Linked DNA regions of Homo sapiens. The protein of the gene in region 3 interacts with the protein of the main gene of each other region in a pairwise test. Each region holds a gene or a part of one and is shown on either strand. Other genes may lie near its edges. The genes, in order: CCNJL, MVP and C1orf94.

The links.
Region 1: the proteins of C1orf94 (region 3) and CCNJL interact in binary tests that used the Homo sapiens proteins (3 or more experiments, as listed by UniProt).
Region 2: the proteins of C1orf94 (region 3) and MVP interact in a two-hybrid assay, tested with the Homo sapiens proteins (one large-scale study listed by BioGRID).

The regions. Positions count from the first base shown.
Region 1 is NC_000005.10:160,305,926-160,309,576, forward strand, and holds part of CCNJL (cyclin-J-like protein), read right to left. Parts: intron 1-3,651.
Region 2 is NC_000016.10:29,830,341-29,833,991, forward strand, and holds part of MVP (major vault protein), read left to right. Parts: intron 1-133; exon of another isoform or gene 134-174; 5' UTR 175-209; coding exon 210-334; intron 335-537; coding exon 538-733; intron 734-3,392; coding exon 3,393-3,516; intron 3,517-3,594; coding exon 3,595-3,651. UniProt on the Homo sapiens protein: Required for normal vault structure. Vaults are multi-subunit structures that may act as scaffolds for proteins involved in signal transduction. Vaults may also play a role in nucleo-cytoplasmic transport.
Region 3 is NC_000001.11:34,179,810-34,183,460, reverse strand, and holds part of C1orf94 (uncharacterized protein C1orf94), read right to left. Parts: intron 1-3,651.

The DNA.
Region 1 (3,651 bases), on a different chromosome or scaffold from region 3:
AAGATCTTTGCATAGATTCAGTCACAAATCAAACATCTTTTATCTGTCCACTGGTTTAAGAAATGTGGCCGGGAACAGTGGCTCACGCCTGTGATCCCAGCACTCTGAGAGGCCAAGGCGGGCGGATCACCTGAGGTCAGGAGTTAGAGACCAGCCTGGCCAACATGGTGAAACCCCGCCTCTACTAAAAATACAAAAGTTAGCTGGGTGTGGTGTGCGCCTGTAATCCTAGCTACTCGGGAGGCTGAGGCAGGGGAATCACTTGAACCCAGGAGGCAGTGGTTGCAGTAAGCCAAAATCATGCCACTGCTCTCCAGCTTGGGTGACAGAGCAAGACTCCGTCTCAAAAAAAAAAAAAAAAAAAAAAGCGGTCTCACAGAGCTGAAGTCCTCTGAGTGTGCAATGAAGTAAGCTTCAGGAAGTGGGAAAAAATGCATTAGGTGGCTGGTTGCCCTGCAGATCTCAAGTCTGGAGCAGGATGAGAAGACCCCTAAGGTATCACATGACTCCCGTCTTGGGAGAAGGTAAACACCCAGTGGACGAGAAGGAGGGAGCCCCTAGCCCCTGGCTCCCTGGAGCCCAGGAAGATAAAGTTACCAGCTCATGTCAAGCAGAGCTTATCAACATGGCTTTGGGAGGGAGATTTTTTTCCCCTAAGAACTCCAGAAATCCCTGTATTCAGAAAGTCTTCTACACACTCATGAAGCCTTAAGTCACAGTGGTGTGTGTCTTTGCTTACTAACATAACTATTTCCTTCTAATTGGAGAGGGAAGACTATGTGTAAAATGGGCATAAATCAAAAGGAGACGAGTGCAAGTTCTATCTACTTTGCTGCTCAGAAAATTCAGGAAGAAAAACAGGACCTCCTGTTAGAAGTCTGGGAGGAATTATCTACATTTCTGTTATCTGGGCGCAACCTGCAGTTATTTTCCTAAGATCCTTAAGCTGTACTTTGGTCCAGGCCAGTAAATCTGCCCTTGCAGGTAATTGCTTTTCTAACTTCCTGCCCCATGTTACCTGACAGGAGAACATGCAGGTCTGTAGGAAGCTGGGGTGGCATCCTCCATCAACCAGATCCTGTGCTGGGCACCACAGTCAATGCTGTGCCCACACACACAAAGACTGTCCTGGCAGATGCCGAAGACGAGATGAAGGATTCCCAGGAAGCATCCCTGCACACAAGCATTCATTCAACATTTCCCAGAAGAGTCCATTTGGGGCTGTCTCACTCTTTTGTGCACTCCCAATGCCTGTGCCTGCATCAGGTGAGGTGGGGGACACCCTGAGGTCCCTCTCTGACTCAGACACTGGTCTGGGAATGCCAAGGTAACAAGGCACACCTCATACCTGCAAGGAGCTCACAGTCTAGTGGGTAGGACAAGTCACTATGCAGGGTGACAAAGATGGTGAAAGAAGCAAGGATGAGGGTGGGGCCAGGACACATGACAAAGGAGAGGCTTAAGGGACAAGGAACGTGGCCCTCAAGCTGCATACCATCCAATGCTCTCGTTCCATCATGTGTAACCAGCACTCACCAAAATCTGTTAGTTCTTGGATTCAACACCCTATTAATTTTAAACTTAGGTGGATGCATCTTTCAAGAAAAAAACAAATGGCCCCGAGTTTTAATCTGGACAGACCTGGCACAGACTTGGTTACCAGAAAAACATCACTAGCAGCCTCCTCACTGGTGACGCCAGCCTGGTGACAATCTACTCCTCCTTTTGGTTCAGGGAAGAGGGTCAAGGGGCACACGTAGCAGGCAAGAAACCCCACATCCCTGTACTGGCTGGCACTCCCACCCCCAGCAGAAAGGTCAGAGGAGCTGAAGGGAGCGGGGTCCTAGGTGGGCTTCTGCAGATGCAGCAGGGACAGGAAGAAGGATCCAAGGAGGAATTTAAGGGCTGAGCATGGGATAAAGGTGGCCTACAGGAAGGGGAGGGAGAGATTTCTCCAGAGCAATTTGGGCTGGAGGAGGGTTCAACTCCCCACATTCACCCATTGGGATGCCAGGCTGCTTAGAGGGTCTTACCAATGGGGTCTCACTCCTGGTTCCCAGCCCTCAGTAGATACATGATTTTTGGTGAACTAGTCCCTTTCCTGACTTCAACACCATCATAGGACCAATGGTCCAAGTGGCTAACAGTGCCTTTCTTACAAGGATTACCCATCACATCTGTGGACCCCTTGGAGGGTGGTCACAAACCCTAAGCCTTACTCTGAGCAGCACTATGTGAACGGGCCATCACTGTCTTGCAGCAACCCTAAGTGGAGAGGTGCAATGCCTGCCAAGTACCCACCATGCACCTCACACTGTTCTTAAGTTATCTCACTTAATCTTAACATTGCTGTAAAACGTTTCTCCCAGCTTACAGAAGAGGAAAGCGAAGACTGACTTATTCATTCTCCTTGTCATTCCATACACATCGGGAAGCTGTGTTCATGGCACTGAGGCCCCCGCAAGGAAGAAGACAGACACAGGTCTCTTCTCGTGTAGCATGTATTCTAGTGTGGGAAGAAAGGCAGCAAACAAACGAAAAATAACTTCAGGCCAGGCACGGTGGCTCACGCCTGTAATCCCAGGACTTTGGGAGGCCGAGGCTGACGGATAACGAGGTCAGGGGTTCTTCGAGACCAGCCTGACCAACAGGTGAAACCCCGTCTCTACTAAAAATACGAAAATTAGCTGGGTGTGGTGGCACATGCCTGTAATCCCAGCTACTCAGGAGGCTGAGGCAGGAGAATGGTGTGAACCCGGGAGGCGGAGGTTGCACTGAGCTGATAGTGCCACTGCACTCTAGCCTGTGCGACAGAGTGAGACTCCGTCTCAAAGAAACCAACCAACCAAACAAACAAAAAACAGAAAAACACTTCAGATCCTGGTAAATGCTACAAAGAAAAAGCAAGGTGATTTAATAGAGTGACATGGAGAGGCAGCAATAGATTAAGGGAGACAAGCAACCATGTGAGAGTCTGAGAAACACAGAATCCAAATAGAGGAAAGAGCCAGTGCAAAGACCCTGAGACATGAACAAGCTTGACTTGTTCCAGGAACAGAAAGGAGGTCAGTGTGGCTTAAGAGCAATGGCATGGAGGGTAGGGAAGGGGTAAGAGACAAGGTCAGAGAGCAGGCCAGAGCCAGGCTATGCTGGGTATTCCACGCAGTGGTAAGGACTGGGAATTTTAAGTGCAGTGAGATGACATTGGAGGTCTTTAAGCAGAGAATGACACAATCTAAATTCTGGCTATTCTGGGAAGAATGGATGATAGGGGCCAGATTTAGAGAGGTTAAATGAGCAGATCAGGGTTTCACTTCCATCACTAGCGTGCATGCAGTACCAAGACTTGTTTCCATGGTGTCAAGTTTTTGATACCCTGTAGTATGATGCCAGACTGGAATCTCATATTTGACAAACTGGGGCTCCCAACGTCTCAGTGATCTCAACTTCGCCTCCTGTGTCGGTCAGGTGAGGATAATTGCTTGTGGTTGTATGGAAACAGTTACACAGCACATATGTAAACATGCTTTGTATTCATCAGGCAACATTCAACTAAGAGTGTCTACTGTGTGCCACGCTCTTGTAAAGTTGTTCTACAGTGTTAGAAACATATTATCAGAGTAGACATTTGAGAAAAACAATTACCCTGTC
Region 2 (3,651 bases), on a different chromosome or scaffold from region 3:
CTTGGGTGGGGTGAAGACAGGGAGCAGTGGGCATGCAGATGCGGACAGGGAAGGGTGCAGTGGCCTGGCTGGAGGAGGTAGGGCCGTATCCCACCCAGAGTCTGTCACCAGATTCATGCCTGCCCCACCCCAGGCTCCCCAGGTTCATCCTGTGTCGTCTCCCCCACCTACCAGTCATCTTCTTGTGAGCCCTGGGCTTAGGAGTCACCATGGCAACTGAAGAGTTCATCATCCGCATCCCCCCATACCACTATATCCATGTGCTGGACCAGAACAGCAACGTGTCCCGTGTGGAGGTCGGGCCAAAGACCTACATCCGGCAGGACAATGAGAGGTGGGTGTGGGGGCTGGGCTGTGGGGGATCCTTGGGGATGTGGGGGCCTGTTTGGCTGGCATGATGGTCCTTATCCTCCTCCCTCTTCCCAAGCAGGAGTGGCCCTCGCTTGGGCGATAGAGAGGTTTCTCTCTCATTTGGTGTCCTCTTTGGTAGTGGAGACCTGGTCCCAGGTCCTCACACCTCTTCTCATCTTCCTGCAGGGTACTGTTTGCCCCCATGCGCATGGTGACCGTCCCCCCACGTCACTACTGCACAGTGGCCAACCCTGTGTCTCGGGATGCCCAGGGCTTGGTGCTGTTTGATGTCACAGGGCAAGTTCGGCTTCGCCACGCTGACCTCGAGATCCGGCTGGCCCAGGACCCCTTCCCCCTGTACCCAGGGGAGGTGCTGGAAAAGGTACCTGGTTTCCTCACTCCCTATGCCCCACCCTACCTGTCCTCCACCTGCCTTGGGCTCTATACTGCTGCCTTCTTCTTCTTTTTTTCTTTTCTTTTTTGAGGCAGAGTTTCACTCTTGTCGCCCAGGCTGGAGTGCAGTGGCATAATCTCGGCTCACTGGAAGCTCCACCTGGGTTCAAGTGATTTTCCTGCCTCAGCTTCCTCAGTAGCTGGGATTACAGGCACCCGCCACCACGCCCGGCTAATTTTTGTATTTTTAGTAGAGACAGGGTTTCACCATGTTGGCCAGTCTGATCTCAAACTCCCGACCCCAGGTGATCCACCTGCCTCGGCCTCCCAAAGTGCTGGGATTACAGGCATGAGCCACTGTTCCCGGCCTGTACCGAGTTCTAAAGGGAAAACAAACCAGGGCAGTGGGAGGGGTGGGGAGAGACACTTGCTGGCTCTCACCAAGGGTGGAATTGACTCACTGTACCTCCACTCACCTCCAGCCACCCCCATCCTCCACACATGCCCCAAACACACCTGCCTCTTTTCTGAGAACTGTTGGCCCATCTCACCTTCCCAGGCTCCAGAGCCTACCAGAAGTGCCCAGCCAGTCTGGCATTAAATGACATGTGCCAAGGTTAAGCAGTTCATTCACCCGGTGCCAGACACTGGTGGGCAGTGCCAAAGCAGCAGTGACAAGCCCAGGCCCCAGGCTGTGCCTGTTCTAGGAGAAGCCATCACAGGCCTGAACCTACAGCCAGGCTCTTGTCCCCGTTGGCCTCAGGCCTGGGCCTGAGCAGGTGGGTGTCCCACCTTCATTCCTTTACCTGTTCTTCCACCTTTACCTTCTGGCCATTTAATGGTTTTGGGTTTTTTGTTTGTTTGTTTGTTTGTTTTTAATAGAGACGGGGTTTCACCGTGTTAGCCAGGATGGTCTTGATCTCCTGACCTCATGATCCGCCCGCCTCGGCCTCCCAAAGTGCTGGGATTACAGGCATGAGCCACCGTGTCCAGCCCCATTTAATGGTTTTCTTACTGACTTTACTAACCAGTGCTGCTTGATCCTGAAAGCATAATAGCAGAACATGGGGAACTTTTAGAGACATTCATGTCCACTTAGGTGCAGACAGTTTGGGGGAAGAAGTGTGTGTGTAGAGAGAAAATGAAGAATGATTAAGACAATAACCCTTAAGGAATCCAAGTGAAAAGTATATAGGGATTCTTGTACCTTTTTTTTTTTTTTTTTTTTTTTGAGATGGAGTCTCACTCTGTTGCCCAGGCTGGAGTACAGTGGCATAATCTCGGCTAACTGGAAGCTCTGCCTCCCAGGTTCACGCAATTCTCCTGCCTCAGCCTCCCGAGTAGCTGGGACTACAGGCGCCCACCACCACACCCGGCTAACTTTTTGTGTTTTTAGTAGAGATGGGGTTTCACCGTGTTAGCCAGGGTGGTCTCGATCTCCTGACGTCATGATCCACCTGCCTTGGCCTCCCAAAGTGCTGGGATTACAGGCGTGAGCCACCGCGCCTGGCCTTTTTTTTTTTTTTTTTTTCTGGATCTCCCCCTGTTGCCTAGACGAGAGTGCAGTGGGGTGATCATAGCTCACTGCAGCCTCAACCTCCTGGGCTCAAACGATCCTTCCACCTCATTCTCCCAAAATGCTGGGATTGCAGGTGTGAGCCACCAAGCCCTGCCTAAGCTTTCATTTTAAATATGTTCAGCCGGGCACAGTGGCTCACGCCTGTAATCCCAGCACTTTGGGAGGCCAAGGTAGGCAGATCACTTGAGGTCAGGAGTTTGAGACCAGGCTGGCCAACATGGCGAAAACCCATCTCTACTAAACATACAACAATTAGCCAGGCGTGGTGGCATGCGCCTGTAATCCCAGCTACTTGGGAGGCTGAGGCATGAGAATTACTTGAACCTGGGAGGCGGAGATTGCAGTGAGCTGAGATTGCGCCACTGCGCTCCAGCCTGGGTGACAGAGCAAGACTCTGTCTCAAAAAAAAAAAAAAAAATTAGCTGGGGGTGGTGACACACCTGTAATCCCAGCCACTCAGGAGGCTGAGACAGAAGGATCACATGAGCCTGGGAGATTGAGACTGTTGTGAGCCATGGTTGTACCACTGCAGTCCAGCCTGGATGACATAGGAAGACCCCATCTCCAAAAATAAAAAAAAGCCAGCTCTTCCTTTGAGCCCCAGTTTCAGTTCAAAGGGCCTTCTCTAACTTCTCCTTCATCTGAACTCCTGAGACAGGGTCTTGCTCTGCTGCCCAGGCTGAAGTGCAGTGGTGCAGTCATAGCTCACTGAAGCCTTAACCTCCTGGGCTCAAGTGATCCTCCCACCTCAGCCTCCCGAGTAGCTGGGACTACAGGTGTGCGCCGCCACCATGCCTGGCTACACTTTTTTTTTTTTTTTTTTTTTTTAGAGATGGGATCTTGCTATGTTGCCCAGGCTGGTTCTTGAATGTCTGAGGTCAAGCAATCCTCCTACCTCAGTCTCCCAAAGTTCTGGGATGACAGGTGTGAGCCACTGTGCCCGGCCTCCACCCCAGTCTTATTTCAGGACATACAGAGATGGATGTTGTGGACCCGCCTCCAGAGCATCAGGCTTGGCCCTGGGGTCACAGCACTGATGGTTCTGTGTCTCCACCTTCTTCCCCACTAGGACATCACACCCCTGCAGGTGGTTCTGCCCAACACTGCCCTCCATCTAAAGGCGCTGCTTGATTTTGAGGATAAAGATGGAGACAAGGTGGTGGCAGGAGATGAGTGGCTTTTCGAGGGACCTGGTAAGTTCTGTCTCCATAGGGCTCCCTGCCTTCCTGTCATAGCCCTGATACCTTCTGACCATCACCTTCCCTCCCCAGGCACGTACATCCCCCGGAAGGAAGTGGAGGTCGTGGAGATCATTCAGGCCACCATCA
Region 3 (3,651 bases):
CATCATACAGCCTGGTACTGCGAAGGCAATTGTGTTTGTTGAATGAATTCATGAATGAAGAAATGAACAAATGTCATTCTGTAGTTAGGGCAACGGAGTCAACAGCAAATCCAAAGACCTCATTCTGAGGCTTTGAAGTTTTAGAGATTAGGGGAATGAATGAATAAGTAATCCTTGAATAAGTGGCTTGCCACAATTCTCTAAGCCCAAACTTAAGACTAACTAAAAGATAACTGAACCAGATTTTGGAGTTAAATCAGCACTAGACAGAACTATTGATTTCTCCCCCAAAACCCATTGCTCCCCATTTCTTCCCCACCTTTGTAAATGGCACACCGTCCAACCAGGGGCTCAAGCTTGGAATACATAGCCTCTTTTATTATCATTATTATTTTGAAAGCTTGAAACTTGGTGATGGGAGTGATAAAGACAAGACTCAGACATGGAACTCAGGCTGATGTCTTAGACTAGAAACCAGCTCTGGAGATCTTTGGAGTCTAATGCTCTTGGCTAGTGTTTTCTCCTCTTGGAGGGGTCAACACCTCTTTGAAAATCTGAGGAAAGCTTCTCTACACCCTTTTGCCGGAAAGACATCCTCCCAGCTCTCAGCATTTGGGGAATTACTTCAGAGACCCCATGGGCCACAGGTTGGAATCCTTTGCTCTGAGGCCCTACACTCCCCACCTTGAGTTTGCCAGTGTTCGGTCTCAACACCCCAGTCACATTGATAGTGATGCATGCCCCCATCCTTGTTTGTCAAGTGAACTCGTGCGTGAAGCAGAGCATGAGCCTCAATGTGTCTGTTTGTGTACCCAAATCATGAGTAGGTCCATTGGCTCATCTTAAAACACACAGTTGAATCCTCCACTTTTTCCATCCCTACTGCAGTCACTCCTACCCAGCCACTGCCACCATTAGGCCTCCCCTGGACTCTGACAGTATCTTCCCAGAGGCCTCCCACTTCCTCTCCCACACACTTACAAACCATCTCCACACAGAAGCTGGACAGAGATTCAAACATTAGTGAATCTGTTCATGTCACACCCCTTCCTAAAAACCTGCAAAAGTGTTCCATAACATGTGGAATAAAATCTGAACTCCCCGCAGTGATCCTCCAGGCCTCCTGAGGCCTTGCCTGCCTGTCTCTGTTATACTTATACCATGGCCATGTCCCCATCCCTCCTGACTCTCCCGTCTCGCTGTCCCTCTCAAAGCTCACTCCCACCTCACAGTCTTTGCATTTGCTTTTCCTTTTGGTTTTGTTTTGAGACAGGGTCTCACTCTGTCGCCCAGGCTGGAGTGCAGTAGTGCAATCTTGGCTCATTGCAGCCTCGACTTTCCTGAGCTCAAGTGTTCCTTTCGCTTCACCCTCCCGAGTAGCTAGAACTACAGGTGTGTGCCACCATGCCCAGCTAATTTTTGTATTTTTTGTAGAGATGAGGTCTTGCCATGTTGCCCAGGCTGGTCTTGAACTCCTGGGCTCAAGCGTTCTGCCCACCTCAGCCTCCCAAAGTGTTGGGATTGCAGGCTTTAGCCACCATGCCTGGCCCTTGCTCTCCATTTTGCCCAAATGTTCTTTCCAGAACTTCCCTTGACTGGCTCCTTCTTAGAACCCAGGTCTCAGCCCAGATAATCACATCTCCTCAGAGAAGCCTTCCTTGACACCCAGACTAAAGGAGCTCTTCCTATCACTTCCCTCTGCTCTATTTCCATTATCACAGTTGTCACTGAAATTATCTTGTTTATTTTTGTGTGTTTCTTATGGGTCTCCTCCACTGGGAATACCATTCTTTTCACATTCTGAAGATATCATAGCTTTTGTATTTACTTGCTTCTTTTTTCTCCTATACTAGAATGTGAGCTCTAGGAAGGCAGGGATTAATGGAGTTCACAGCTCCATCCCCCTAGTTTCTCACACAGTTCTAGCATATAGTAGATGTTTAATAAATATCTGTTGAATGAATAATTGAATGAATGAATTAAGAGATTGAAAATGTGTCCACAGAGTGAAAGTCGACTTGGGGAAAAAAGTGAGTGTAGTATTGGTTGTCATTAACAGGAAACAGAATGCAGACAGGGAGGATCAAATCTGCATGGATTGGATCACCCCTGGATTATTGTACTTGGCTTTCAAAGTTACACTGCCACAAGGACCAACAGTGTGGACAGGAAACTAACCAAATTGGCACATGGGGAGAAACTTAGAAAACCAGAGGTGGTTAGCTTATAGAGACAAAAACATTCTGGGAGGAATATTGTTGCTGTCTTGCTGTCTTTCACTATCCAAAGGGGTATCGAAAGAAAAAAGACATAGATTTGGCTTGGAGTACTAAGGGCAGAATCCAGATCAATGGGAATTAGTTTGATAGAGACATATTTCAGTGATAGAAAGCAAAAGGTATTTTGAGGGGGTTCATAGCAAGGGAAGGGGCAGCAAAGGGAAGTGGTAAGCTCCCCATCTGATAAACTGTACCAAGTGGTACAAGTGCACCACTTGGCAGGGACAGTAAGGAGGGGATTCGAGCAGCGGAAGATGGCTTCAAAAATCTCTTTCAAATTTGAAATGTCTAGGTTCCTATGATAAATAGGTGCAGAGTCAAGAAAAACAAATTCTGGCCAAAAAGAATTGTAGAATGCACTTACCTATCTACCACAATACAAGAAAACACCACCAAAACCAGGTCTACAAATTAAGCAGCAGAAAGACCAGCTGAGAGATATCTTGTGCACCTGAAGGCATTCTAGAAATAGTAAGAACAGCTCCCTGGCTTTTCACTCTGTGTGTGATCATTCAGTATATGGGACTCCCAACTATTTTGACTATTCAAAGATGCCCCAGATTCTAAGACAGGACAGCCGACATTATTGCCTCAGGGCCAAGGCGGTCTTGGGTTTCATTTCTGAAACTCTACTACTTCCTAACTGTAGGAGCTTGGGCAAAGAAATTAACCCCTCCAAACCTCAGCCACGTTATCTGTAAAAGTAATTTCACTTATAAATGGAGGGGTGGAGGTAGCAATTGAAACCAGAATGGCACAATGTGATAATTATTGAAACTCAGTGATAGACACATAGATATTCACCATATTATTATTCTATGTGTTTGAAAATTTGCATAATAAAAAGTAAAAAGAGATGGAAAGTTTAAAAGAGTACCTACCTCATGCAATAATTGTAGAGCTTAAAGAAATGATCACATCTGAATTGCAAGGAATTTTTACAAATCTGAATTATTACCATAAATGTTTAAATATCCCATTTAATCATTCCAACAACCCTACAAAATGTATAGTATTAATCTCCATTTGGCAGATGAGGAAACCAAAGTTTAGATAAATTAAAGAGTAACAAATTCTTCAAATGGCATGGGGCTGAAATGGAATCTGAAACCAGAGTTATCTGACTCCACCAGCACACCGCCTTTATTTTAAGAATAGCTCATTGTGTTCTATTTGGTTGACAATTAGGATGTCGTTTATTCGTCTAAGTCATTGGTTTCCTATCTCTTTTCTCAATAGCAGAAACATGTTTTTCAAATTCAGCCCTACTCAGAACTCTAGTAAGTAAAACTGATAAAAGCTAAACAGCTCTGGCTGAAATGGATTTTGGGGCCCAGCAACCAGCCCACTTGACTCCACAGTGACCCCTGAA